2 separate regions of the Homo sapiens genome follow, and region 1 is linked to region 2. Evidence: fine-mapped expression QTL. A gene starts in region 2. The other region holds a variant in brackets. All regions are shown on one strand. Distances are between the middles of the regions.

The links. PIP is the estimated chance that this variant, and not a neighbour inherited with it, causes the effect.
Region 1: its variant is the best candidate, but not a certain one, in a credible set for the expression of CC2D2A in whole blood (TOPMed, PIP 0.55).

The regions. Positions count from the first base shown.
Region 1 is chr4:15,440,670-15,456,500 of GRCh38, forward strand. C1QTNF7 (C1q and TNF related 7) reads left to right here. Exons shown (of 3, transcript NM_031911.5): 3 at 1,499-5,498. The coding sequence ends at 2,130. LOC107986185 (a long non-coding RNA gene) reads left to right here and starts at 5,658. Exons shown (of 2, transcript XR_001741392.1): 1 at 5,658-5,692; 2 at 7,348-7,825. The variant G/A (reference allele first, on the strand shown) is at 8,181.
Region 2 is chr4:15,461,740-15,477,570 of GRCh38, forward strand. It overlaps CC2D2A (coiled-coil and C2 domain containing 2A), which reads left to right and starts at 8,143. Exons shown (of 37, transcript NM_001378615.1): 1 at 8,143-8,318; 2 at 14,176-14,232. The coding sequence starts at 14,194.

The DNA.
Region 1 (15,831 bases), 21 kb before region 2:
TGCTGGGATTACAGGCGTGAGTCACTGCACCCAGCCCAGAAGCAAGTTTTTTTTACCTGTCTGGGACTCAGTTTTCTCCTCACAAAATAAGCTACTGCATGGTGGTGGCAGTCATTGTTTTATGGTTATTGTAGCATGTTGAGCCCTCGCTATGTGCCAGATGCGCTTTCGAATTTATGCTCCTGCTGGCCGGGCATGGCGGCTCAGGACTCCCAAATCTCAGCACTTTGGGAGGCCGAGGCAGGCGGATCACCTGAGGTCAGGAGTTCGAGACCAGCCTGGCCAACATGGCAAAAGCCCCATCTCTACTAAAAATACAAAAATTAGCTGAATGTGGTGGTGCACACCTGTAATCCCAGCTACTCAGGAGGCTGAGGCAGGAGAATAGCTTGAACCTGGGAGGTGGAAGTTGCAATGAGCCAAGATCGCGCCATGACACTCCAGCCTGGGCAGCAGAGTGAGACTCTGTCTCAAAAAAGAAAAAAAAAGAATTTATGTTCCTGCCAAATGCTCTGGCTCCAGAGTCAGGCAGGCAGGCATGAGGTCAGACCACAGCTCCATCATTCACTAGTTCTCTTCTCTTCAGTAAAGTAACTCCTCTATGGCTCAGCTTCCTCATTTGCAATGAAAGTAATAATAATTCTGAGTTCATAAAGTCACTGTGAAACTTAAATAAGATAATGCATGCAAATAAAGCATTTAACATTGTCCCTGGAACATAGTAAATCCTTCATAAATATAAGCAAATCTAATTTTGATTAATTCTCTTATTATTATCACAAATAGAAATAGAATGAAGCCTCTAGGGATTTGCCTGGTTCTGTCTGCCCCTCTGGGCCCACTCTGAGAAATAATATCATCATGCTCATTGAAGGGTTCCTGTAGTGCCCAGTACCTATATGTGAATAATATAGTGGCAAGTGATCCATCATCAAAATGATAGTTAATTATGTTAAATTTGTCAGGATTTAAATTATTTCTTACATATTCAGGAAAATTGACTTAAATTCTGACGAAAATTTTCTATTTTTGTTGTTAGTGCACCAGTGATGTTTTAAAAGTTTATTATTGGCTGGGCGCGGTGGCTCATGCCTATAATCCCAGCACTTTGGGAGGCTGAGGTGGGTGAATCACAAGGTCAGGAGTTCAAGACCAGCCTGGCCAACATGGTGAAACCCAGTCTATACTAAAAATACAAAAAATTAGCTGGGCGTAGTGGCAGGCGCCTATAATCCCAGCTGCTTGGGAGGCTGAGGCAGGAGAATTGCTTGAACCCGGAAGGCGGAGGTTGCAGTGAGCCAAGATCATGCCACTGCACTCCAGCCCTGGTGATAGAGTGAGACTCCATCTCAAAAAAAAAAAAGTTTATTATTTAGTAGTACACTGTTAAATGTTGCCTGAAAAGACAAAGTTGGGATGTGCTGGGACCATGTAGGTATATTGTTTGTGATTATATCTTTTGAGGAACTATTAATCAAACTATATACTCTTTCTGAAGGTTTGAGAGGTAAGACTGGACCGCTAGGTCTTGCCGGTGAGAAAGGGGACCAAGGAGAGACTGGGAAGAAAGGACCCATAGGACCAGAGGGAGAGAAAGGAGAAGTAGGTCCAATTGGTCCTCCTGGACCAAAGGGAGACAGAGGAGAACAAGGGGACCCGGGGCTGCCTGGAGTTTGCAGATGTGGAAGCATCGTGCTCAAATCCGCCTTTTCTGTTGGCATCACAACCAGCTACCCAGAAGAAAGACTACCTATTATATTTAACAAGGTCCTCTTCAACGAGGGAGAGCACTACAACCCTGCCACAGGGAAGTTCATCTGTGCTTTCCCAGGGATCTATTACTTTTCTTATGATATCACATTGGCTAATAAGCATCTGGCAATCGGACTGGTACACAATGGGCAATACCGGATAAAGACCTTCGACGCCAACACAGGAAACCATGATGTGGCTTCGGGGTCCACAGTCATCTATCTGCAGCCAGAAGATGAAGTCTGGCTGGAGATTTTCTTCACAGACCAGAATGGCCTCTTCTCAGACCCAGGTTGGGCAGACAGCTTATTCTCCGGGTTTCTCTTATACGTTGACACAGATTACCTAGATTCCATATCAGAAGATGATGAATTGTGATCAGGACCAAGATCCCTGTGGTAAACACTCTGATTGAATCTGGGGTTCCAGAAGGTGGAACAAGCAGGAATGGGATCCAAAGAGACTCCCACTCAGATTCTAAAGCATTTAAAGACAATTCTAGCAGAATTTATCAAAACAAGATGAAACACAGAAAAGTTGAAACCACAACAAAATGAATTCTATTAAAGAATAGCCCCAGATATAAATTCTCTTGAAAGCAATGTTCATAAATATTTAAGCAAATTAAAGACAATGTTAACAAATTTTCTATTAAATGCCCTGAGTGATAAAACCAGTTGGCAATAATATTGCCTTATTAAATCTTCAAAAAATATATTTTAGTCTGTTATTTAAGAAAAACATAACATCCCAAAATCTTTGACAATTCTCGAAAGGCTATATAGTAAGTCAAAAACCAAAGGTAAGAGATGCTAACTATTTTTCAAGCAAGCTACAGAGAAATGATAAATGTTTTTTGTTTTATTATTTATTCCTTCATGTTTGTATATATTCACTCAACAACCCTTTAATGAGCCTGTAAGGACCAGACACTGTGGCGCTGAATCAGATTTAATAATGAGTTAAGACAAAGCCCCTACCTATGGGCTAGTGTGTGGTGATCAAACTATCACAATTCAGTGTGATGAGCAGCATAGCAAACAGATGGATTTGAAGCTAAAAGCACACAGGGTCTGCTATTCCTGAGGCTGGGGGCCAGAGAAGCTTTTACGCATGGAAAAACACTAATCATGCCAAGGTGTATGTGTTTAAGGGGGTGTGATGGATGCAAAGGGAATGAGGAATTCAGCACTGCATTCTCTTTGCACCCTCAATGCATGATTGGTATTCTCAACAGCAAAGGGGTGAAAAATCTAGAGACAGAGGAGGCCTGGCAGGGGTGATAAAAATGGAGATTGAAATGAAGAGAAATAGCCAGCAGGTGATTCTTCTGAATCCTTTAGTGTGATGGTTTCCCAAGACAAACATTTGTCCTAATAGCTTTCTCATAAATATGGGCACCACTTTACATTGTGGTAAGACATTGCTTCTCATGGATCTGCTAGGTATTTATTTCAAATAAAGCAAGGCATATGTTCACTGATTTACGAGTAAGCTGATGAGAGCAATGAACAGGAGAAGGAGGGAGAGAGCCAAATGTCTGAGTAAACAGATATCCCTTCCAAGTCTCACACCTCCCTTAGTCCCACTCTTGCTTGTGTCAGCACCTTGTTCTTCACTGAACTGCAATTCTTCAATTATTCTCTTCCATGATTTTGTCTGATCTACCATTTCTATGGTTTATGGTAATAGTATTCCCTTTATCCCTCCCTTTTGGTAACTTCCAATCCTCCTTCTATGTATTCCTTTCTCTGCTCATTGACTTATAAATAGTTTTCATACCTCTTATGTTTGAATCACCATGCTAGATTCTGTGAAGACAGAAGAGTATCAAGATTAATATATTAATAGTATAGCTCTGACTGGTAAATTTCTTTTTTTTAATCTTCCCCAATTTAAATTTTTTAATTTAAAAGTAAATTTTACTGTCGAAAATGCAAACTTGGGGAGGGCGGAAACATCACACACAAGGTTTCCACTTCACACTTGGAGGGTTGCATGGCGGCTGGGCAAAGGTGCTCCCCACTTCCCAGATGGTGCGGCGGCTGGCCAGAGGCACTCTTCACTTCCCAGACAGAGGGGCGGCCGGGCAGAGGTGCTCCTCACTTCCCAGAGGGTGCAGGAGCCAGCTCTGACTAGTAAATTTCTAAGGATACCAGAAAGGAAATGGCATGCACACACACAAAAAATACCTAAATTTTGGATGAGAAAATGATAAAATATGCTAAGTTCTAGGCTGGAAATAAGGGCAAAATGCTGTGAAAGAAGAGGAAATGTTTACTTCCAAATTAGGATGTGACAGAGAAGGGATAGGGAAATCCTCTCTGCTCATTGGGCCTTACATGATGGGTGACACTTGGAGTGGCACAAGTTGGGGGAAAGCGCACTTGAGACAGAGGTAATGATGGGGACGAAGTGAGAACAGAGACCCAGAAGGAGAATCAATGGACCATATTTGTAAGAGCTTTGAAAGCCAGCCTGAGAATTGGAGGATTTATTCATAAGAAAGTGTAGAGACCCTGTGTATTTCAGAGCTGGATACTGCCATTACCACAGATGAAAGTTGCAATGATCTAGCAGTTGTGTGCAAAGGCAAGGCTTGCTTTTCCTGTCTTTCAACCCTATCTTGCTTTTCCTGTCTTTCAACCCTATCTTGCTTTCATTGTCTTCATCTTCCTGCCATACTTTGTGCACTTATTGCTCTCCTTCTGAGTCAGGACATGTGTACAGGAGACCAAGAACAATGAGTATTAGAAAAAAAGGAGACAGCAAAGGTGGTTTGAGGTAGTCACCTGCTTACAGATAACAGCCAAAGATAGAATTCCAAGTTATAAAGCATAAAAAAGAGCCAACAGAAGTAACTAATCCGGGAAAAGTGAACATATGGGCCCTTTAAAGACTACAAGATTTGCTAGATAAACTGGAAATGGAGAAGTTATTGCAGACAGTCATGAACCACAAATCACTGTGATTAAAATTTTCTTCTGATCGTAATCCACGAATGCATTCATTTTTTGGACATTGCTTACTTATCTTTTAAATGTTTCTTTTATTACAAAGCCTATTTTGAGTAGCTTTTAAAACTGAATTTCCTTTAATTGGTTTGAAGCCTAGAGATGAATTTCGTTTTCAAATATCTGGTGGGATGGTAATGGGGATTAGAGAACTGACATGAGAAAAGAGGAGCTGTTTTGGTATTAAACGAATAAAATCTTAAGCAAATATAGGTGTCTTTTATTCTTAAAAAATAGCAGATACAGTTTATCCACATTTGTAAATATTTGTATAAAGAAAGTAGCAAAACAGTTTTGGTTTAAAAAGTTCCAAGTCTCATTGCAATCATTCTTTGTAAAGGCTGACTTGTAATGAATATGTATTAAGCAATATTTATTGACTATACACCATCTTGTTCTAGAAGAGTTTAAAGCCACTTAAGAAGATAAATAAGATATAAAAAGAAAACAGCAGTCAAAAGCAGATGAGAAGAAATGGGAAAAACAAAAAAAAAAGAAAATAATGAGGCTAATATAATGCTGTGTGTACATGAACATGAATGTGCCTGTGTTACACATTTTCAGGCCACAAATGTTTCTTTGTGCCCCTGCATGCACAAGGGTATTTCCAGGTCATTTATCATTGTGAACAGTGTTGCTTATGATAAAAAATAGATTCTATAAACTCTAAATATACTTTTTTTCTACCACTCTGTGTAAAAGATCATGAACGTAAATAAATTTTAGATATGAGCTGGGTTAGTCCATTTGCATTGCTATAAAGGAATACCTGAGGGTGGGTAATTTATAAAGAAAAGAGGTTTATTTTGGCTCACAGTTCTGCAGGCCATACAAGCAGCATGGTGCCAGCATCTGCTTCTGGTGCAGCCTCAGGAAGCTTCCAATCATGGTGGAAGATGAAGAGGGCACCACCATCCTATCACATGGTGAGAGAGGGATCAAGAGAGTGGGGGGGAGGTGTCACACTCTTTTAAGCAACCTGATCTCACATGAACTCATTAGCATGAGGACAGCACCAAGCCATTCATGAGGGATCCACCCCCATGACCAAAATTCCTCCCACTAGGCCCACCTCCAACATTGGGAGTCATAGATCAACATGAAATTTGGAAGGGACAAAAACATCCAAACCACATCATTAGGTTTCTCTCTTTGTCTCTCTCTCTCTCTGTAGCTCCACTTTCAGTAAATAGCATCTCTACCCACCCTGTACCAAAGTCAAAACCGTAAGGTGCAAACTAAATGTCTTTCCTCCCTTCCCTACTGAATTTTGCCCAGCATAAAATTCTTATGGTTCCAGCCACTAAATGCACATATCTGATTCATTGCACCTTTCCATTCCCGGTGCAAAAGGTGTCATTCATACATTCATCATCACTTCCCTTAATCAGTGAAAAACGTTGTAACTGGCCCTTTGCCTCCAACCACAACCCTCCAATCCATCCTCCACACTAGATTGAGTATATCCTTTTAAAATGAAAATGTGCATGCCATTTCCCGGCTTAAAAAACAGCAATGACCCTCCCAATCCCTCCGCTATAAAAGGTGTTTTGAACTTCTATAAGTTTTGCCATCAGGTGTGTATTTCATATTGTTTTCTGGTATCCATACCTAAATTCCTTCTGAAGGACTATCTTCCTTTACGTGCTAAGTCTATGAGCTTCTCAGTGGAACTGACACTTCCAGTATGTAAATCTCTAGCCTAACTCATCAGAGTATAGCATCCCACTCACCAAAATAATTGATTCAGGTGACTCTATGAGAGTCAATGAAACTTTGCTGGGACATCTATAGAAGAGAATCTCCTTCTTTTCTGTTGGACTTAAGCCTGTGAACCTCCACCAGCCACATTACCACCACAGAGCATAATACCATGCAAGAATAGACCCATGCACAGATGAAGCAGAGAGACAAAGAGAGAAAATGGGTCTTGGAGTCATCATTTGAACCCCAATCTAGACATATCTATAGCCAGCTGTTCCCTTGGACTTTTCAATTATGGAAACTGTTAAATGCTGTTTTTACTTAAGCCCTTTGATTATTTGATCACTTGGAAAAGATGTTATCCTACCTAATACTCATAAAAGCATCGTTTAGCATGGTGCATTGAGCCCTTGAGGATGTAGCTTCTGCAAACTTTTACAGTCACATCTTCAAAAGTCACCCACGTGTAACTATTATCCAAGAATATGCAGATAACTGCAATTCTAGGGTACTTTGCCCTAGGGTGCCTCACCTTTTCAGGTTCAGCTCAAAAGTTACTTTCTTTTCTCTAATCTTTCCCTTCCCCTGTGCCTAAGGAGAATTACAGATGACCACGTGTGTGTTCCTTGCCATCTGGGAACCAGTGCATAGTCATGGTAGCAATAGCAAACACTTACTGGGCACTTTTTGAGTGGTTTACATGTATCAGCTCACTTGGTCCTTGCTACGGTCTGCATGTTTGTGTAGCCTCAAAAGTCATATGTTGAAACCTAATCACCAGTGGGATGGTGTTAGAAAGTGGGGCCTTTGGGAAGTAATTAAGTCATGAAAGACCTACCCTCATAAATGGGACTTATGCCCTTATTTTTTATAAAAGGCCCCAAAGACCTCCTTTCAACACATGAAGACACAGTGAGAAGATGGCCATCTATGAATGGGGAAGCAGGCCCTCGCCAGGCATCAAATCTGCTGGCACCTTGATCTTACTTTCCAGCCTCCAAAACTGTAAAATAAATTTCTGTTGTTCATAATCTATGCAGTTTTTGGTATTTTATTATAGTAGCTCAAATGGATTAAGACAGTCCTCACAACAATTATTCACCTCATTTTACAGATGGATAAACTGAGAGGCAGAGAGGTTATGAAATATGTGAAGCAAATAGTAAGTGGCACAGTAGCCCTAGGCAGTGAAGCGCCAAAGCCCACTCTCTTAACCACCGTGCTGGCACATTGCTCATATATTTTTTACATTTGTCTATCTGATGGAGAGTTTGTTTGCCCTATTGATTTTTATATCCCAGGACTCTACATGATGACTGCTATAGTATGTGCTCAATAAAATTATGATGAATTAATTAGTGACAAGTTCTTTTCAGTCACAATCTACACATGTGGTCAGAGTCAAATGGGGGAGGTGTCACAACAGGAAAATCCTATTATCATCTTGTACATTAATCAATATTATTTAGATTATAACTGCCAGACTCCAATTCAACATGGTTCAAGTAAAAGGAAACTCACTGAAATAACAAAAATCCCAGAGCCAGACCTGGGTACCCAAACAATGTCACCAGGGTCTTATCTCTCTCCCTCCTACAGAGCAGCTCCCCACATTGCTGGCTTCACTTTCAGGAAGGGTATTGCCTTTATTTATTGCAAAGATGGCCACCAGCAACTCAGGTTTGCATTTTGCAGTCCGAGCAGGGGGAA[G/A]AAAATTATCTTTCTCAATAATTCCCATGAAATACCTGGAAATGACAGCCTTTTGATTCTGAATGGTTCTACTTGAATCATGAGCCTATCCCTCAACCAACAATTGGCCAAGGAAATGTGATGTTGCCATTGACCAGGCTTACATCACAACCCAGCACTAGAGCTCAAAGAAAAATCCATCTCATCTAAATCACATGGACAGAGGTGGTAGGAGGAGGAAGAAATTATTTCCCAAAGGAAAATGAAGATTTCAGGTCAAGAAAAAGAGAGATTAATTAATTGGCAGACAAAATTAACTAGAGATTTCCTAAGCTGTTTTCATATAAAATCAAAACCACATTTATTTTGTCTGCATGATGCAAAATAAACGTGTTGCTAGAATGATTTTTCCCTGAAATAATCTAATTTTTGATAATATTTGGTCAGAATTGGCTAAATATTTCATACTGTAAAAGCCTGGCATCTGTGATGATCTCATCCTACAGGCTGTCATAATGCTGATCTCCAATGGCCACTTTTAATGAAAGAATAAATTATTTCCAACTGAAATACTTCTTCTTCCCCTCAAACTCTCTGATTTTTGACATCAATACCCTAGAATAGGCAATAACATATGCAACTATTTTAGATAATGATAAAAAGAAGAGGAAGAGCATCCTTGGAGATAAGTCTCTATGGTATCAAAAAGAGCCAGTTTGAGGTTGCATAGAAAAGAGAACACTTACACACTGTTGATGGGAGTGTAAATTAGTTCAACCACTATGGAAAGCAGTACAGCAATTCCCCAAAGAGCTAAAAATAAAACTACCATTCAACCCAGCAATCCCATTACTGGGTATATACCCAGGGGAATATAAATTATTCTACCATAAAGACACATGCATGCAAATGTTCATTGCAGCACTATTCACAACAGCAAAGAAATGGAATCAATCTAAATGCCCATCAATGACAGAATCCATGGTACATATACACTGTGGAATACTATGCAGTTATAAAAAAGAATAAGATCATGTATTTTGCAGGAACATGGATGGAGCCAGAAGCTATTATCCTCAGCAAACTAACATGGAACAGAAAACCAAATACCACACATTCTCACTTATAAGTGGGAGCTAAATGATGAGAACTCATGAACACAAAAAAGGGAAGAACAGACACTGGGGTCTACTTGAGGGTGGAAGGTGAGAGGAGGGAGAGGATCAGAAAAGATAATTATTGGGTACTGGGCTTAATACATAGGTGATGAAATAATCTGTACAACAGACCCCCGTGACACGAGGTTACCTATGTAACAAACCTTTACATGTATCCCCCAACCTAAAATAAAAGCATTTAAAAAAAAAAAAAAAAGGAGCCCGTAAATCCAATTCATTCCTCAGCCAACACATAATGACAGCCCTGAAAGGAGAGATTAAAAAGCTACTCTCAGTTGTTAACTACATTGCTGACCTCATGTTTTCCTTCTTGTTTCCTTGAGAGATCACCAGTCAGTGTCTCATGATACCAGCAGTTACCATTTACTGTGTGCCTAGTAAATGGCACCATACTGGATCCTTTCAGCATGGTACTTTATTTTATCCTCAGGAAAAGCCCCTGTCAGTGGCGCATTCTTCTAACCTCTAGAGAGAATTCAGTACCACTCTCACCTTCTTCCTCTCTTAAAAAAAAAAAAAAAAAAAAAACACCCACACACAGAAAAGAAAAGAAAAGAAAAGAAAAGAAAAGAAAAGAAAAGAAAAGAAAAGAAAAGAAAAGAAAGAAAAGTAGCATTTGTATGGACGTTGGGATGGAAGCTTCCCAAGTTCTGGGATGCCGCTTCAGCATCAGAATGGAGAAGTTCAAAGACTCTCAAGGCCACATACCAAGTTCTCTAGGGGTTCTTCTCTCTCCAGGATGTGCCTATCAGTGTTCAGGCAGAAGGCAGCATAACACTTTCAAAAGGATTTCACTATGGAAGGTCAAATGAAAGAACTGTATTAAAGGTGCAGGTGGGGTGAAAAGAACCATGCAGGGATGCTGAAGTATCCAAGGACTAGCAACAGCAGGAATGCTTCACCATCCCAAATCCTGAAAAGGAGGAGAGGCAGTGGTGGTTGCAAAGTGCAGTGAAGAACTGGAGACTTGGCAGAGGGACCAGCCTACAGGAACTACACCTGCAGAAGAGCTCAGCCACTGCCAGAAGTAGGGAAGAAGCCAGGACTGTGAATCCCCTGACCACCCTCTTCTACCTTTCAGTCTCCTATTTATACCCCTCACTGGTCAAAGCCCATGACTCCAGGTGCCCAGATAGTCTTGGTGATGCAGTGCACAGAGATGAACTTCTTGGGCAAAACTCAGAACAGACAGGGATAGAAGATGGATGGGAGCCAGGAGAGAGGGTAGGAGCAACGGAAATCAACCAGCACAGGGCTCCCCTCCCAGATCTCTTCCTTCTCTAGTCTCTCTAAAACTCCACACAGCTTATGCAATAAAACTGGCTTCCTGTTTTTACTGGTTCCTTGAATGCATACAGCAGAAGGAACATTTTTCCAGAGCTGTGTAATTTATGCACAAGGAACCCTTGAGTCTCAGATGTGGCCCAGCTCCACTTACAAAAAAATTGCATGGGATCTTGGAGTGAAGTCCTTGGACTGATGAACAGAGGGTTTTTGCCACAGTGTCCCTCCTAAGTCCCTCTCCTAAACTTGCAACAGCAACAAACAGCTGGTGGAGATTTAGGAGTTCAAGATTCTAACCTAGTAGCTTTCCAGCTCATCATGAGTTAAATACTCTTCTTACCCCTTTAGAGGTAACAGTACTGAGGCTCAGAGCAATTGAGCAATTTGCCCATGACAAGCCTTAATAAATGTGGGATATTCTAGCTCTGCCCATCCACCTCCAATGCCCATGCCCTGTCATGAGCACACACACATGCACTCCCCTGCCTCTCAAGGCCTCTTCTTTAAGACATGTTTTCACAGCAAGATCATTGCATTATGGAGGAAATGCAATATCCACAATTATCTTCCTTTGATCCTAGCAAACATCATTTTCCTCTGACCTTAGCTGGGAGCTAAGCCTGTCACAATCATGACTGGCTTACTCATGATCAAAATATTCAGTGCGGCCAGAACATGCAGCTCGGCAAACTCTAAGGAGTCCCAAATATAACAACCTACTTTGCTCTGCCCAAGGAACAGAGACTGGCCCCAAAGGATTGATGCTGACCCTCTGCATTTGGTTTAGTTCCACAAAAGGAACCTAGGCAATCTTTTAGCATCATCGTTGTACTATCATGCTTAGAAAAATCCAGGCAGTCTAAATTCCTCTATACACACTACACATTCTTGTCAAGATTAATCCTAACAGAAGCCAGGAGCAAGTAGGACCACACATTCCACAGGCCTTGTGTGTTCCCTAATGTGGTTTGTAGATCAGCCTGAGACATGCCAAATATATTGGGTAACTGAAGACTCTTTTGAAAGAAAAGAAAACATAAAATTTGCAGTGCTGTACCATGGTTTTCAAGAGACTCATTGATCCCTTTTTATTTCTGCTCTGCATCACTGTTTCCTAAATTTGGTAGGAATCTTGCACTTTGAGCCAGATCCTTCTTTTTTTAAGGGCTGTCCTGTGCATCATAGGACATTAGCAGCATCCCTGGCCTCTGCCCACTAGATGCTAGTAGCATCTCCACCCAACCACGTGAGTCATCACAAGCAACAATATCTCCCATCATTGCCAAATGTCTCCTGGGGGGTCAAAATTGAGAACCACTTGTGAACCATATCTGTACAGTCTTGTCATGGTGAGAGAGTCTACACAGCCCCCCAAATCTACTTTTTCCAACTGACCTTTATTTACAGAAATGACCCCATAGCTGCTCCTCATTTCAGGTATGATATCTCTTCCCTTGTGAGAATCCCAAGTTAAAGAGACTCCATCCTGGAAGGTGTACAGGAAGAGCAAGAAACTGTGCCCTCATCCAAATTCTCTTTTACTATAGCCAGGATTTTTTAAAATGTTTTCTAAGATACAAAAATCACCAAGTCTCCTATTTCTAAGAATTTACTCCAAGAAAATAATTAATAATGTGTGCAAAGGTTTAATTGCAGAAAGAGCCCTGCAGCAAAGCTTGCAATATGGAAAATTGAGAAATAGCCTCAACATGGGTGAAATGAGCTGTGATACACTCATCCAATGAAACAGAGTCATAAAAAATGATGAGGATGCCCCACCAGGCACAAGAGCTTGCACCTGTAGTTCCAGCTGCTGGGGAGGACTGCTTGAGCTCAGGAGTTGAGGCCAGTCTGGGCAACATAGGGAAACCCTGTCTTTAAAAAAAAGAGGATGGAAATGTATTGGCACCATAAGATATTCACAAAATATTAACTAAACAAAGTAGATGACTGAGGAATATTTTCAGTACTCATTTCATTTTTAAAGTCTGTTTGCCCATATGCATAGAAAAAGTCTAAATTAAAATATTAATGGGGAATTTTAAATCTCTACTCTTTTGACCTTTATTTTTAATTTTTACAATAAACATTGTACTCATTTTACATAAAATATTTTATGTATGCTCTTAGGCTAGTTGCATATTATTTTGTTTCCAAAAATTGCAGAGAAAATGTCTAAGGAGAGAGAAATAAAACTCTTAGGAGTTGAAGTGTAAAACACGATATCATTCTTAAAGTTTCCTGGTGGCGTACCTGGATGTCTATTCCAGAGGATTTTTTAAAGCAAGATTACCACCAAGTAATACTAGTTTATATGTTTTTAAATTGTTTCTTCCTAACTAGAACAGGGAGGGAAATTAGTCTTGAGTTTACATCATTTTATTGAGTTTTTCTTAGTCCAGAACTATGAACCCAATGGATTACAACAGTATGAAGTCATTCAGAACCAATGCATTTGTCAGATGGCAAAGGCATTTATGAGCAGCTATATGAAGAAGACTGAATTCATGGCTTCACTCCAGTGCCATCATGGAGGTGGCAGAACTTACCGAAGTAAAGACTTGCCCAATATAGTTAGGGTTCCAAAAAATGATCTGCTAGCACTAAAAGGAGAAAAATCATAAACTCTAAGGGGTTGCATAGATGCTCTTTCATTACAAAAGTACTATCTTTTACAAGATTGTGAGATGCTGCCTTGGTGGAAATAAACAAGAAAAAACAAAGTCTCAGTGATCTATTCCAACCACAGTTTCAGATAAATTTGGCACCACTGAGCATCCCCATTGTTACTGAAACAGAAAACACTCAGGTCTTACTATTATTATTACTCCAGAACAACAAAGAGAGTTGCAAGGATTTTCTACAGAAAACATCCAGGTCTTACTACATGTAGAACTAAAATTAAAGCACAGCCTCCTGAGATGTCCCAGTTGGTCAGAATATTGACAAATAATAACTAGAAGGTTAGTATGTGAGATGGTCAGGGCCCAGAAGCCATATATCCATCAATATATCAAGGTGTGTCCACACAAGGAGTTGCCCACCTGATTCCCTTTTAGGGTTGCCAGATAAAATTCAGAAGATTCAAATATAAATTTCACATAACAATCATTTAGTAGAAAACTGTCTCAAATATTTAACTGGGTGTCCTGTATTCCTTTTTGCTAAATTTGGCAACTCTAAATTATGAACAAAAATTCACCTACAAAAACATAAATATGAGTCCAACTAACTTTTTGGAAGGCCGTGCATATAATTTCTCATATAACAAGAAGTAATTGTTCTTTTGAGAAGGGATTCTTAGCTTCCTAAAACAGTTTTAAAGGGCCAAAGTTAGCTGGATGAGAAAGCCATTAGAGAATCTTTTGGGTGGAAAGTCAGAAGACAAGATCTAGCCCCAGGAATTCCAATAATCAGCTTTGTGTGACTTTTAGACAAATCACCTAAATCCTTTAAGCCTCTGATTCCACACTGGATTGGTGGTGGAAAGTAAGTGCTGTCTTTCTCCAAACTCATGGCAGACATTGGTAATAGATAGAAGCATTTCTTCCCACTGTGCCCCAGGGCAGCCTCAGAATTCTCAACAAAGTCTCCAGGTCCATCCATCAACAAGCATGTACCCTTGAGATGAAATCAACTTGCCTTCCCTGAATTAAAGGAGCCTTTGGTTACCCTTCCAGTTCTAACGAAAGTTTGGAAACTCTTGTATTCTAATTCAATAGGCAAGGCTATACCTAGTTTTGCACTCCCAATTAAAAGCAAAACTTGGCAACTGCCTTCTGAAATCGCTATTTTACAAAATCAGAGCAGGAGTAATGGGTGCTGGAGTTCTGCTTGGACCAGGCCTTATAGGCCATTACTTCCAGCTGAGTGGCTCCAACAGCCCTCCAGGGCCTTGGTGGAGGCCAGGGTAGATCCTGACACTGGCCCTCAGTGAAGAACTTGACTCCACTCTGCTTCACGTCTCTGCTTCTTTTGCATCCATGGGCTTCTCATACCACTCACAGGTTTCCTCACCCTGTTATCTGCCTTTTCTACAGCATGGATTCTGATTTCTCATCATTTCAATCTCTGCTGGCATCTCCCAGCCCAGCTCTAGTTCATGACATGTTCTTTGCTTTAGCTCCAATTGCTCAATCCCTGCTGACTCTTTCTTCATGTCTCAGTTCAAATCCCCAGAGTGAGGATCTCATGTTTGGCAGGCCCCTGTTTATCAAAGAGCCAGCCTGGGGATTGGCTGCAGCTGATCCACACCCTCCTTCGGTCCCATCAGCTAGGACTGTGAATACTGGTATAAAGCACAGTTGCCTGCTCAAAGCCCATCAGCACGAGATGTAGGCAGTTTTGTTTTGTTTTTTTTCCAAAAGTGTGTCATCAGGTAGGCACTGCGATGTTCAGTTCATAATTTCACAGGGTCTTTGCAAGAACAAAATGTGGTAATATATGTAAAAAATGACAATTTTAGCAGATTTCCCCCAAAAGCAGACTCTGAGACAAGGACTTGAGTATAAGTGGTTATTTGGGAGTTGCAGGAAACACCAATAGGGTAGTGAGGAAGCAACAGAGCAACAATAACTGTGTCTGTAAGCTAACTGCCATTGTGGTTGATTGAAGCTCATCCCAAGGAGCTGCCCAGGAGAACAGGATAACACACACCGAATCAGCTCACCCAAAAAGGGAGGAAGCCGGAGTGTTTAAAGACCAACTCCCAAGAGTCATTGGCTGAGGACCGCTCTCAGGATCAATATTTTTCCAGCACTTTGAGAGTGCCTTTGGTGCTCAGGTAAAGTGACTTTGCAGGGTTCTGAAAAAAGGCTTCAGGCACAGAGATGGAGATAAGACAGTTAAAAATCTATCAAAGCACCCTGAATTGGTTAATGCAAGGGATATGGAAGAGGCAATGACTTCATCTGCCACCGTACTTGGTCAACCCTCAAATAAATGTTGGCCCCACAAGAGAAGGGGGTATTGTCTGCTTAGTTCCCTGTACCTGAAACTGCCTGGTGCATAATCAAAGCTCAGTAAATATTGGTAGGATGAATGAATGAATGAATGAATGAATGAATGAAGAAATGTCTATATAAATGAATGAATTATTTGGACAATTGTTGGAGATCTTTTCTATTTGTTTTTCTTCTCTTGTGAATAAAGAGGTAACGGGATGGGAGAGGGTAAAGGGGAGCAGCTGGGGGACACAGAACCACCTTGTA
Region 2 (15,831 bases):
ATTCTCTATAGCTCCAACAGCTCTCTTAGAAAGTGAGAATGTTGTGAAATGCAGCAAATAAGAAGAAAGTGTGCAATTCAAAACAGATTGAAAATCATAGCACTAGAGGAAGAAAATTAAATGCTTTAGTATCTATAAAATAAAAATGGGCTACACAGTCAATGTATCTGAGTCAATAAGTGTTTCTCTCTATTTACTATAAACCCAAGAGGTTCTAATTTGCTGGAGTTCAAGTTATGTTTGAGGGAGAGAGGTATGTAATTCAGTAAACTGGAAAAGATAAATCCAAATTGAAAGGCATGGTTTTATAAAATTTATGATTCAAAAGTCATTCTTCAGTGTCCAACTTGAACCTTATTTTAGTCAGGTTTTCCCTTGTGATAAATTTTTCTTTCAGAGAGAATGAATCAGCTACAATCAAAAGTAGTATAAAATTCAAAGAACCAGTAAAAATGACACATTCACCTAAAGCTACGATTGTGTTTCACATGTACAAGTGTGAAAGGCATATTTTAGCCATTTATTGACCTAAATAATGCACCACTGCAGCTTTACCCCAAAGAGAATATAGCATAGTAGTCTCATATCGGGCTCTATAATTTTTAGTGTTGTACAGTATCCTAGTCTCCCAAAGAGGCTTCAAATGCATCATACTTTAGTGGCATTATCCTCAAAGGCATTGAATGCATTTGCTTATTTTTTTTTAGGTATACATGTGTCACATACTGAATGTTTGTGTTACCTGCAAAATGCATATGTTGAAGACCTACCCCGTAATGTGATGGCATTTGGAGGTGGGGTCTTGGGAAGGTGATTAGGTTCAGACGAGATCATGAGGGTGGGGCGTCCATGATAGGATTAGTGTCCTTATAAGAGAAAGAGAGCAGGGCTCACTTGATCTCTAGCCTGTGAGGACACAGATAGAAGGTGGCCATCTACAAGCCAGGAAGGGAACCTTCACCAGAACCTGACAATGTCACTCTTTGTTCTCAAACTTCAGCATCTAGGACTGCAGGAAATAAATGTCTGTTGTTTAAGCCACTCAGTCGATGATATTTTGTTATGGCAGCCCAAGCCAACTAAGACAACATGTCCTTTAATCCATTTTCTGCTGCTATAAAATAATACCACAGACTGTATAATTTATAAAGAAAAGATATTTATTTGGCTCACAGTTCTGGAGGCTGGGAAGTCCAAGATTGAGAAGTGGCATCTGGTGAGGGTCTTCTTGCTGCATCATAACATACTGAAAGGATCACATGGTGAGCAAACTGTGATGCAGAGAGAGGATGGGGGCAGAACTCATCCTTATTACCAGAAAACTACTCCTGTGATCATTAACACACTCCCTCAATGATAGCATTAATCCATTCATAAGGGTGGTGCCCCCATGACCTAATCACCTTTTAAAGGTCCCACCTCTCAACACTGTTACGATAGCAATTAAACTTCAACATGAATTGTGGAAAAAAACATTTAAACTACAGCAACATGTAAAAAGTATGTCCCTCAGAATTCCATGTAAAAAAATCATGACTGTATTTCATTCATTCATTCATTCATTCATATTTTTTCATTTATTTAAAGGTATAACTCCTATAGTTGTTATTGTTGCATAACAAATGACCCCAAAATGTAGTGGTTTAAAATAATTATTTTAGAATGCACATGGATTCTGGGAGACAGGAATTTGAACAGAGCACAGCTAGTTCATTTATCTGTGCTCCACAATGTCTGGAGTCTTCACTGAGAGAACTTGAACCTGAGGAGGCAACTAAACAACTTGGGGCTAGAATCATCTGAATGCTTGTTCACTCTCATGTCTAGAGCCCTGGCTAGGACAACTCAGACTAGGACTTCCAACAGAGTGTGTATGTGTAGCCTTCCCATGTGGCCTGGCTCCCTCATAGCATGGTGGCCTCAAAGTAGTCAAACTTCTCACATGGTGGGTCAGGGCTCTAAGTATAAAAGTTTGGGCAAATAACATAGAAACCACATCATCTTTTATGGTTTAGCCTCCTGATTCAGCCAGGAAGCCAGCATCACTTCTGCTATACTCTCTTGGTCAATAGAGTTACTAGTCCACTCAGTTACAAATAGACAAAAGATAGACCCCACTTCTTGATAAAAGGGGTGCCAAATAACTTGGGGGTTTTGTTTATAAAGCCACCATAAAGGCATACCAAGATAGAGCACAGGATGTTTATTATTAGGAATAATCAAAGGAATATGACCGAAAGTCTATCAGAGTTTTAAAATAATAAAGAATATTTTGAAATACCTTATGTCAATCACTTTAAAAAGAAAAAGGACAATTTCCTAAAAACATATAATATACTAAAACTGAAATAAGAAGAAATGTAAAACCTAAATATTTTGGTAGGGAGTAAAGAAATTGAGTCTGTGGTCAGAATTCTAGTTACAACCACCCACACCCATATACCAGTTCTCAAAAAAAGATATACAAATGGCCAATACGTACAATGGAGCATGATGCTCTACATCACTACTCATCAGGGAAATGCAAATTAAAACTACAGTGAGATACCACTTCATACCTTCTATGATGGCCATAATTTAAAAAACTAAAAATGGCCAGGTGCAGTGGCTCACATGTGTAATGCCAGTACTTTGGGAGGCCAAAGGCAGGCGGATCACCTGAGGTCAGGAGTTCAAGACCAGCCTGTCCAAGATGGCAAAACTCTGTCTCTACGAAGAATACAAAAAAAATTAACCAGGCATGGTGGCAGGTGCCTGTAATCCCAGCTACTCAGGAGGCCGAGGCGGGGGAATAGCTTGAATCCGGTAGGCAGAGGTTGCAGTGAGCCGAGATCGTGCCGCTGCACTCCAGCCCAGACAACAGAGCGAGGCTCAGTCTCAAATAAAATAATAATAATAAAAAAAACTAAAAATAACAAGTGTTGGCAAGGATGTGCAGAAATTGGAACCCTTGTACAGGGCTACTGGGAGTGTAAAAGGTGCAGCCACTGTGGAAAATAATTTGGCAGTTCCTCAAAACTTAAACAGAATTGCCATACGATCCAGCAATTCCACTTCTAGGTATGTACCCAAAAGAATTGAAAACAGATACTTGAACAAATACTTTTAGGCAAATGTTCACTGCAGTATTATTCAAAATAGCTAAAAGGTGGAAACAACCCAAATGTCCATCAGCAGATGAATGGATAAACAAAATGTGATCTACATATACAATGGAATGCTGTTCAGCCTTAAAAAGGAATGACATACTGACATATGCTACAACACAGATGATCCTTGAAAACATTATACTAAGCAAACTAAACAAGACACAAAAGGACAATATTGTAATAATCCACTTACATGAAATATCTAGAATAGGCAAATGTATAGAGACAGAAAGTAAATTAAAGTTTACCAAGGGGTAATGAGGGAAGGGAGAATGGGGAGTTGTTATTTAATGGGTGTAGAGTTTCTGTTTGGAGTGATGAAAAAGTTTTGGAAGCATAGTGGTGACAGTTGCACAACATTGCAACTGTGTTAAAAACTATTAAATTATACACTTTAAAATGGGTAAAATGGCAAATTTCATGTATACACATTTTACCATAATTTTTAAAAAACTTATTAGACCCAGACAATTGTATAGACTTCACAGAAATGATAAAGCTATTTTTACTTGAACTGTTACAAAGATGAGTGAGAGAGAAATATTAGTCTGCTTTTTTTTTTTTTTTTGAGGTTAGACTATCCTTTATCCTAAAATGAGACAAGAACAATACAAGGCTGATCTCAGCTAAGAACATAAATGCAAAAATTTCTAGAAAGTGGTAATTAAATCCAATATTAATTTTTGAAGTATCTTGACAAAATTGAGTGTATCCCAGGAATGCAAGCACAATTTGACATTAAAATGCCTGATAATGCAATTCTCTACACTAATAGATGAAAGAATAAAAATAATATTTAATTATCTCAAAAGATGTAGAAAAAAGCTTGTGATAATGTGATTCAACATTTATTCTTGATGAAAAACTCTTTAGCCAACTAGGAACACTTAACCAAAAGAATGAGATTTTTGTGTTATGATTTAAAATAAATTTGCTAGATTCATTTATTTTGCTTACATAAGAACTTTTGCAAGTAATGGTGTTTTGCAATGATACTTTTTAATATTTTTGGAACTTAAGAAGTTGTATGATTCTTATGAATTAGTTCAGTATTAAAGATCAAAGAGGACGTGCCCAGCTAGCTCTGTTGGCAGACCATGAGACTTTTAAAATATCAGGGAGGTAATAATCAGACGGTTAATTAGCAAAAGAGTGGTGAACAAGTCCTTCCTCTCATGGCAGCTGACCATTTCAAGTAGATAATCTCTTACGGTAAACATTCATATTTTTCTTCACTTAATAAACCTTGCAACATTTACTATGTGCCAGGACTGTCCTAAGTGCTTCACAATTATTAACTTAACAAATTTCCTAACAACTCTCTCTGGAATAGTTACTATTATTAAACCTCAGTTTCCTACAGAGAAGGAAACTGAAACCTAGAAAGGTTAAGAAAGTTGACCGAGATCCCTCAGTTGTAAGACAGAGCATTCAACTTCTTTCTCTCTCCTCTCCTTCTGGTACTGTACTGGATATGGTGGACCTCATCAATTTCTCCCTGTATCTTTTACCTACTCTTTCCTATTTTCAATATCTCTGTGCCACATTTCAATTTTTTAAACCTATCTTTTGCATCTCTTCAGCTCTCTCATCTACAGTTTAGCACATTCTTTGACTTTTATCTAAATTTGTGACTGTATTATTTATTTCTAAAAGTTCTATCTGGTTACTTTTTGAATTTGTCTGATCTTTTTGATAGTGTCTCACTCTTCTTTCATATTTTCAAATCCTCCTTGTATCTTCTTGAATATTTGGTCATTGTTATTTTTCCACTCTCCATCTGATTATTGTATTGCAAGAAACTCTTGAGTATCTAATAGTGTCCTCTGGTTTGTCTGTGGACTCTTGAGTGTTTCTCTTCTGTTGTCTAATTTTGGGTTGTGAGCTCATCTTCCTCTGTGTTTATTTGTGGACATCCTGAATTGTCCAATTGAAGGTGTGTTCCTCCAGAAAAGTTTTGTAATAACTTCTGCCTGGCACCCCACGGGGATACAGTAGACAGAGGCCACTTTTTAAAAGTTATCACTTAGGGGCCTCCTAAAATATATAAGGAGCATAAATAAGACAAACTGCATGGTGCAAACCAATGGTTGTAAATTCTTCATATTTTTCTCACCACATGCAGAATACAAGCCAAGACAGACAAGTTTTCTTATTGTCTTCTTTTACCAGCACGAGATAGTAGATTGTCCCCTTCAATTGGAAAATACATTATTTCATACAGTTGTTCTTGTATTACTCCTTTGGTAAATTATACTTTTCCATTTTCATGGTTCTCTCTTTTTATAACTACAAGCATTAAATTTCCTAGCCTGAGATCCTTTAATGTTTTTTGTAATGCTTTTCTGTAAGGGCAATATGCTAGCTTTGTCATTGGAGGATCCAGAAATGTCAGTATGTAGGGTCTGTGCTTTATAATCATTCAGTTTTTCCAGAAAATAATTTTCTACTTTCTCCAGTTTTGTGCAGGTAGAGGTAGGATGGGGGAGCCAATGGCATGTTCTTGATTGTCTAAGTTCTTGAGAAAGGTTCAGAAAGGGCCCTGCAACATCTTCATTTCATATACAGTTTTCAATCCTGAGACACACTCACTTGCTGCAGTACCTGGGAACTTGAGACCAGAGAGTCTCTGGTTTAACTTCCCTAGAAAAGAAACCGCCAGTCTCCTTTGGGCAGCAGCAGATGAGGCAGATGTGGAGGACGGAAATTATGCCTGAGGAATGGGCATTTTTCAGGCTGCCAAGAAAAAGGATCCTGAGGATCAATCCCTTAATATACAGACTTTCAAATCTTCCTGCATTTTTAGCCCCGTATCTCTCCCCACCTTCCTTAGTCTATGGTTGTATTAGTTTCCTGATGCTGTTGTAACAAAGTACCACACACTGAGTGGCTTAAACAGCAGAAATTTTCTAACAATTCAGGAGACTAGAAATTTGAAATCAAGGTGTGGCAGGGTTGATTCTTTGTGAAGCTTCAAGAGACAGTCTGTTCCAGGCCTCTCTCCTGGCTGCTGATAGCCTTGAGTGTTCCCTGGCTTGGAGATGGTGCTCTCCCCATGTCTTCACGTTGCCTTTCTTCTATTTTGTCTGTCTCTGAATCCAAATTTCCCCTTTTGTAAGGACGCAATCATCTTGGATTAGATCTCACTCTAATGACTTCATTTTAATGTGATTACCTCTGTAAATACCCTATCTCCAAATAAGGTCCCATTCTGAGATACTGAGGTTAGGACTTCAGCATCTTTGGGGATGAGAGAGAACACAATTCAGCTATAACACTGCTGCCCCAAATCCTGGCACAGTAAATCAGCTCATTTCCTCATATTCATGCCTACGTGCACACCCCATCATACACAGACACACACACACATACATACACGTACAGAGACACAAACACAAATACATTGACACATACACATGCATGCAGGCTGTGTCAAAAAATGTACTCTGGATTTGTTTTAATTAGGTATGGTAAGACACACAGACACAAACATGATTGGCACAAAAGAAGAAGTTTATACTTAACAGATCCCTAGAAACAAGAAGCATGGTGTCTTGGTTCGTTTTCTGTTGTTGTAACAGAATACACAGACTGGGCAATTTATAATGAACAGAAATTTATTTTTCACAGTTCTGGTGGCTGGGAAGTCCAAGATCAAGGGGCTGGCATCCTGCAAGGGTCTTCTTGCTGCACCATCCTATGGTGCAAGGCAAGAAAACATGAGAGCAAGAAAGAGAAAGAGAGAAAACGAGGCCAAATTCATTCTTTTATAAGGAATCCACTCCTGCAATAATGGCATTAATGCATTTATGAGGGCAGAGCCCTACAGCCTAATTGCCTCTCATTAGGTGCCACCTCCCGACACCATTGTGTTAGGGATTAAGTTTCCAATACATGCTTTTGGGAAGACACATTCAAATCATAGAACATGGCATGCCACACAGGACCACATAGGGAAGAACCAATGTTGGTCAGAAGGCAGAACGGAGACAGCAGAGTACAGCACAGAGCCTTTACTAGGGTTTTCCCAGGAAGGAATAGGTGAAGCAGGGTAGGGTGCTGCATAAATTTAGGAGTGGATAGCTTGAATAATCGTGGTGTTCTCTGGGCTATAGTGGTCTGGTATCTGGACCTGGGGTGACTTAGGACAGGAGGAATATTGGCTTAGTGTGTGAGAGTTTGATAATGGAGATGGTTGTGTGGGCTCTGGATTGGTTGGCTTGTATATCAAAGGAGACTTTGCATATTTCAGGGGAATCATTTGCTATCTCTAGAAATTAGCTAACATAGGAGAATCAGTTTCTCCAGGATCAAGGCTCCAAATGCCAGAGCATCAAGAATACAGAAAATAAGAAGATACAGTCAATACACATACACACAAACATACACACACCATACACACAGACACAAATACACACAAACACATGTGCACATACACACTAGTCTATTGGAGTGTGTTTCCTTGGCTCCATTCATTCTATTACTCTTCCAGCTACTTTGCCTCCTACCTCTCCCTCTTTTTTTTTTTCCAACTTTTTTGAGCCATAACATTTATATCCGTTTTCAGGAATTGCAGTGGGATTCAGAGAATAGGCAAAGATTAAACTTGTGCGTTCAACCTTCCACTTTTAACTGGAAAACACTCAAGTGCAACATTTGTTGGTACTCTGCAGCACCTCCACAGAGCTTTTGCTGCTGCCACGTTAGACAGCTTCACCATGTAATGACGACCTTTTAAGATTCTAAATCCCCCCACCTCTGAGCCTGTTCTTCATTGGAAATGCAAGACGACCGGATGACATGAGGGAGGGGCAGCTCTTAAGGCTTGACCTAATTTCCAGTGCTGCTCATGTTGATTTCTCTCCGTCCTTCTACTGCAGGCTGTGCGTCTCTGCTTACCCAGCATGCTTGTACTCCACTACTGGAAGTAGCCTGTCACTTTAAAGGAAAAAAAAAAAAGCTACCGAGTGACCTTCCTTAGGAACGGGTTGCTAAGCTGGTGTTTTTGCTCCAAGACATGGCTGCAGCTTCCCAGGGAGGAGCCCAGGGGCATCTCCAACACTCAGCCTTTCCCTCCGGACCCTTTTAAAAGATTCAACAGCACCGTCTCTCTCCACTTCCATCCTAGAATGCAGAATCTGCAAAGTGCCTTTTGTAAAGTTTCTTAAGGTAAATCAGTCCCTAACCGGACTTTAGGCTGCAACAGTGATTTCCTGTTTTCAGTTACCCGGCTTGAAGTTCAGCCTCTCCAGGATACCGTGAGACTGGATTTAATGAATTGTAAATTTAGGGGCTCTCATCGTTATTTATGTTTTTACTTTCTGAAATGGGAACATAGACCATTACTTGGCAGCTTTGATTTGAGCTGCTATCTGGTATCTGGTTTGCAGGAAATGTAAGTCCAGTTCATCACAAGTCCTGAGTGAAAATGCTCTCTGACCAAAGCTCTGTGAAACATTAGCTGCGTGTTGCATTTATGGGCCTTTTAGTTCAAACTGGCTTAAGGGGAGAAGCACTAATTACTGCAAAATACACTTTTCTTGGTATGAGACAGAGAAAGGGCTACTAACCACAGTGCTAAGAGTTGCTGTGCTTTCCAAAGACTTCAAGAAAATGTACTGGCTACAACTTAAGCTGATTGTTTGTTTCCCTTCATTGCAAAGAGGTGGTATGAAAAGCTAATAAAGTCAAATAAGAAATATGTTTGCTACTGCATTTTCATATAACCTTTTCTGCAAATAAATTCAGCACCAGCATGAAATCTCTCTCTCTCTCTCTCTCTCTCTCTCTCTCTCTCTCTCTATATATATATATATATATATATATATATATATATATATATATATCCTAGAGCTCACTTATAGAGTCATTCATTCAAACATTTATGGAGCATCAACAATGCACCAGGCAATGAATTTAAGTTTAGAGTGTGCAAACATAAATTAGACTAGGTCAGAAGCTCAGAATTTGCTGGGAAAACAGACCTATAAACACATGATAAGAGTACAATGAGCTAAGTGCCATAAGAGATTTATAAAAACACTGAGAGGACAGTGGGATGACATCCAGGGAGGGGCTTCCAGTACTTAGCACATCATGTAAATGCACTGGTCATATATCACGTAACACAGCTCAAATATGGTACTCATGTGTACTCTTCAAGGCCAGTGTACATTATATCGAGCTGATTAAATGATTCTATAAAGCTATTGGTCACTAACCTTATGCTAAGGGAAACTGCAGCTGGAATAACTTGTAGAATAAGATAATGTATTCCAAAACAATGTATGTGGCACCTCCCCAGGTGTCCAAGCTCCAGGAGGGAACAGAAAAATGTTCTCAGGGTGTGAGGAAGAAAATACTCATGGGTAGAAGTGCAGGAGGTTTCAGAAGCACCATAAATGGAAACAGCAAGGCAACTGCCCTGGGCCTGGCTGAAGGGAGGGAGACATGAAACATGAGTTATGGTAGCTGGGGGTTGAAGATTGGAGCTGAAGGTGGGTGGGCTTGAACATCACCTAAGGTCTTTCTCATGACTCCTCTTCTATCCCCCAAGCTCTTTTCCCTCCTCATTCCTTTTTTCCACTTTCCCTCCCCACAATCACTTTTTCTTAGTAACAAAACCTACCAATATTGAGAGCCCAGCCTGTGCTAGGCATTTTACTACACACATTTCATCATTTAGCCCTTATAAATTAATCATCCTTCAAGGTAGGAAGTATGATTGCAATGTTGCAGACAAAAAAAAAAAAAACGTGTCTCAGAGAAGGGAGGGCATTGTTCCAAGATCACACAGCTAATAAATAAAGCTGAAGTTGGAACTCAGGTCCACATATTCCTTGGCAAAGAAATATGTGGACCACTCTTCCTATAAACCCATGTTTTTGCCATCCTGGAGTAGGGCATATATATTGTATGATTTTTTAAGCAACCAATATGGAGTTGAGATGCGTTGTATCTCAACCTCCAGGTATGGCTCTGACCCACTGATGACTCTTAGGAATAGTCCATTTATTCAGATGAAGGTGTCAGTACTTTCCTTGAAAAAATATATCTGGTTTTCTGCACTGAGTAAAATAAATCATTGGCTTAATGTAGCCTAAGCCTTTTCTCACCAGTGCAATGCTTCACAGCTTTCAACTGTAAATATTTCCAGAATAGCCCACTATTCTGGAAAGCACAGAATAATTATTGATGCCATTGCAAAAGCAAGAATAAATGGTGAGATGGAGGGGTAGAGTGGAGTGAGGGAGGACTCAGGAATCACAGAGTCTTGGGATCAAGTTCTGAATGTGACATTTAATAATTATAACTTTGGAAAAATCATGTAAATTGTCAGAGCCTCAGTTTACTCATACGCAAATTGGGGCACATACTACTAAGCCAGACATGTTATTGTGAGGACTAAAGAGAACATGTCTATAGTTAGCACAAAATAAGTGTGCAGTAAATCATAGCTATTTTGATGTTGCCAGTAGGAATATATTAACAAGTACCAGTGCATAAGATGATGGCAAACTGCATATTAAAACCAGGCAGTATTGATTTATCTTTTCTTAGCAACAGTGTTCATATAAAAAATAAATTTCGGTGTCATTTGATTTCCTTAGAAACTCATTTAAAGGAAATGATCAGGAAAGAATGAGGAAAAAAGAAAATCCCATTACATTTTTCATTTTCTACTTCTATTTTTTTCTTCCATATAAAGCATTTATTAACTTATAGAGAACTTTTTTTAGTTACTAAAATGTTTCACAGGTTTTTTTTTTTTTTCAGTTTGCAATGACCAGAGTTGTTCATTAGAGAGCTCTCATGTACTTTTGCATTTCATCTTTATTATCTGCCCCCTCATTCACTCTAGGTTATCTCCTTGCCTCTCTATTTTCTTAGCTGCTTTTACATTTTCCTTCCTCTATTTTTTGTACCCTGTGATGAGGTTTGTAGAGAAGACAATAGAATTTCAGATGCTTTATTTCCCTTTAACATGCTAATTCCCCTGTAGGGTCAGTGAAACCTTGATCTCAGATGAGCTGCTTAAATGACCTGACCAAGTCCCAGTTAAGATTTGGGTTCCAAGGATATTAGAAAGGGCTTATGATTTGTCAGCCATATGCCTGTTGTTTCTCCATGTGTTTTCTCATTTAATCCTCACAGCAGCCTAGAAGAAACAGTGGAGCTTTAAATAGTCCCAGAATGTGGCTATGGAACCACAGCCAATAAGTCAGTGACTTAATCATTCATTCGACAAGTATATATTGAATGTCCATGATGTCCCATAATCCTAGTCTCTGGGGGTAAACAATAAACAAAATAATGTTTCTGCCCTCTTGCAGCTATATTCTAATGGATATGGGCTGACATTAACAAGTAAGTATGTATGTTGAGTGGTAATAAGTACTGTGAAAAAATCATTGTAAGGTAGTTAGGGAATTCCAGGAGGGTGTTGGGAGGAGATCATTGTATTACGAATGGTCAGAGAAGAGCTCTCTGATAATAAAATTTCAGCTGAGACCTGAAGAAAGTGAAACAGCAAGAGCCATGCAGATATCTTGGGAAAAAGGAGAACTAGGTAGCAGGAACCGCAGCTACAAAGGTCCTGAGGCAACAGGATTCAAGTGCAAATCACACAGGGCTTGTAGGCCTTGGAAAAAACTTTGGGTTTTACTCTGTTGACAAAGGGAAATCATTGGAGGATTTTGAGTGAAGCAATGTGATTATGTCACTCAAATTTTCATCAATTTGCACTGGCTTCAATGCAGAGAATATGGTAGCCCAGCAATGTGGCAAGCTGAGAAATTAGGAGTTTCTTGCAGTAGATTTCAAGAGAGAAGATGGTGTTTGACCATGGTGATAACAGTGGAAATGTTTAGAAGTGATTAGATCCTGAAAATAATCTGAAGCCAAAACTGGCAGGATTTCTGATGGATTCATGTGAGACTGAGAAAGGAGTTAAGAACAACTGCAAGGTTTCTGGCCTGAGCAAAATGGATTTCTGTTTACTACAACAGGAAAACTGCAGTACAAGGCAGGCTCAGGAGTAAAAGCAAAGAACTTTATTTGAGGTATGTAAAGCCAAGTGAAGGTGTCCATCAAGCAGATACTTGAGTCTGGAGTTCTGGGGAGATGTCTGGACCCAGGATGTAAATTTGGGAAGTATCAGCATGCAGATGGTATTTAAAACCAAGAGACATAATGAGATGGCCAGAGGAATGAAAACAGGCAGAGCTAAGCCCCACAGCATTCCTATCTTTGGTGGTCTGAGAGATAGGGAGAAACCAGCAAAGGAGTTTGAGAAGGAACAGTCAGTGGGTAAAAGGAAAACCAAGAAAGAACTTGTTCCAGGAGCCAACTGAAGAAAGTATCTCAAAAGAAGGGATGGGTCACTTTCATCACTAAATGTTTCTGACCCTTCCATGCCTGGCTTATTTCACCCACAAGTAAGTGAGAACATGCAAATGACAAACATGGCATGTTCTCACTTATGTGTGGGATCTAAAAATCAAAATAATTGAACTCATGGAGATAGAGAAGAGAAGGATGGTTACCAGAGGCTGGGAAATGTAGTCAGGGGTCGGGGGAGGTTGTTTAATGGATACAAAAAAAAAATAGAAAGAATGAATGAGACCTAGTATTTGATAACACAATGAAAGGACTATAGTTAATAATAATTTAATTGTACATTTAAAAATAACTAAAAGAGTATAAATGGATTGTTTCTAACACAAAGGATAAATGATTGAGGGGATAGACACCCAATTTTCTGTGATGTGATTATTAAGCTTTGCATGCCTGTACCAAAATATCTCATGTACCCCATAAATATATACACCTACTATGTACCCACAAAAATTAAAAACTTAGAAAATGTTTTAAATGCCTCTGACCAAGTCAAGTAAGATGAGGGCCGAGAACTGATCACTGGACATGGCAACGCAGGGGTCACTGGAGATGAATCATTGGCAAAAGCAGTTGCAGAGTATGCTAGACCCCAAAAATAAAAAAACAAACTGGAAAGAGAGGGAATGTTTTGAGGGATTTTTCTATAATTGTTGAAAAATTGAGCAACAGCTAGAAAGAGAAGTAAAGTTAAGAGAGGGCTTTTTTTGGCCGGGCACGGTGGCTCACGCCTGTAATCCCAGCACTTTGTGAGGCCCAGGCAGGCGGATCACAAGGTCAGGAGTTCGAGACCCACTTGACCAACATGGTGAAACCCTGTCTCTACTAAAAACACAAAAATTAGCCGGGCGTGGTGGCATGCGCCTGTAATCCCAGCTACTTAGGAGGCTGATGCAGAAGAATCCCTTGAACCTGGAAGGCGGAGGTTGCAGTGAGCCGAGATCGTGCCACTGTACTCCAGCCTAAGCAACAGAGTGAGACTTCGTCTCAAAAGAAAAAGTGTAGGGGGCAGGGGCCTTTTTTTAAAGGAAGGAAAAAATTACAGCATTTTTTCCACTGGTAGGAATGAGCCAATAGAGCAGGAAGAAAATCCAGATGAAAGTGAAGAATTGTCAGGATCAAGGGCCTGGAGGAGGAGGAATGATGGGGCCTAGTGCACTGTTCAAGGAGGGGCCCCATGGGACATGGGGGTTCATAGTAGCAAGTGGAAGCAGAGGAGGTGGCGGTGGCTCCATGTGGTGGGAGGGGAAGGGGATGTAGAAGCCCTCTCTGGTCTTGTCTTTTTACTTGGTGAAATAAGGGCCAAGGTCAAGGGCAGAGAGTGCAGAGGGGCAGTAGCGGAGATGAGCTGTAAAATGGTCCTTCTGGAGCTGGATTCCAACCAGTGCCATCCAACTCTATGGGCACAGTAAAGGCAGGCTCCCAGGGACAGGGAGACCTGGCATCCTTCCTTTCCTCTGGCACTTATCTCCACCAATCCTGGGGTCTGCCAGGGTTCCTGGTGAGTGGAAAGTCTACCCAGCTCAAACACTTCACTTACCATCATGGCCAGCCTCTTACATATCCATAGTAAGAGAAGCAATATTTCATTGATTTCAAAATGCCTGACTTCTTCATTGTTCTTTGTCAGGGACCCATCCCAGCCAAAATGAATCCCAGGGAAGAAAAAGTAAAAATAATTACAGAGGTAAGTGGCCACTTTGATGTCCTCTAGGGATGTGTTTGTGTGTGCATGCTTATGTTACACGTGTTTGTGAATGAGGAAGTTAGGCCAACCAGCATCTATTGCACATGTTAAAAGAAAAGCTTTACATGAATTAGATTCAACAGAGTCTAATTGTACAAAGAACGATTTGTGAATTGGGCAGCCCTCAGAACCTGAAGAGATTCAGAGAGCTCTGCTCTGCTCTGTGGGCAGACAGCATCTATGGACTGAAGATGGAAGTGGAGTACAGAAACAGCTTGATTAGTTACAGCTCAGTGTTGCCTTATTTAAACACAGTCTGATCAGTAGGCCACCTGTGATTGATTGACACTCAGCTGCTGTGATTGGCTGAGACTCAGCTACCTGCTACAGAAGCATACTTCTAAATTAGGCTTTCATTTAGTTTACTAAGATTGCAGTTTGTTATGTAAGAACTCAAAGTACAGAGGTATCCTCAAGCCACATTTAGTTTAATTTAACACACACCGACTAAATGCACCCTGAGGGTGCTATATCAGAGACGTGGTGGAGAAGGGGAGGTGGATGTTGAAGGAAATGCAGTCCTGCTGACATTCCAAGGTCTTACCTCTACCTGAATGCTCCGAAGCTGTTTTGTCACGGTTCTATGAACTCTGACACACAGCAGCTCAAAGTTACTACCTATTATTGAGCATAGCTCTGCCTGAAGCACGCTGATTTCTAAAGACATTCAGAATGAAGGTAACAATTGTAGACACCTGCTAATACAAGCCTCTGTCTGTGGAGTCCTGCAATTTCTGACTCATTGTATGTAAAAACTCATTAAAGCACTGCCCACACCAGAGAAGGGAGGCTGTCTAATTTGGAGACTGCAGACCATCCAACAAAAGAGAGAGTATTCCTCTCAATCCTTACTTCTCTCTCGCTTCAAGGGCTCACTGGCTTGAGACAACAAAGACAGAAATGGAGATGATATGTGCTGTCCAATGCAGTCCTCCAAAAAGCCTGAGGAAACTCATTATAAAACCATGCAGATTAACTTTAAGCAAGATGGCTGGGCACGGTGGCTCACGCCTGTAATCCCAGCACTTTGGGAGGCCGAGGCAGGTGGATCACCTGAGGTTGGGAGTTCGAGACCAGCCTGACCAACATGGAGAAACCCCATCTCTACTAAAAATACAAAATTAGTCAGGCGTGGTGAGGCATGCCTGTAATCCCAGCTACTTGGGAGGCTGAGGCAGGAGAATCACTTTGACCTGGGTGGCGGAGGTTGCGGTGAGCCGAGATCATGCCACTGCACTCCAGCCTGGGCGACAGAATAAGACTCCATCTCAAAAAAAAAAAAAAAAACTTTAAGCAAGATCAAGTACCAACAAACCCACATAAATTTATATTTGCTTATTCATTCATATAACCAAATATATTTTGTGCCTGTAGTCCCTGGGAATACAGCAGTAAACAAACCTTGTTCCCTCATGGAACTTACGTTCTATCTTATTTGAAGTCCTACTGGATAGTTAGAATAGAGGATGAAAACATCACGGAAAAGCAAAACATTACGTAGGTTTCTCACAAGTCCATTCTAAGTCAGTAAAAACTTAG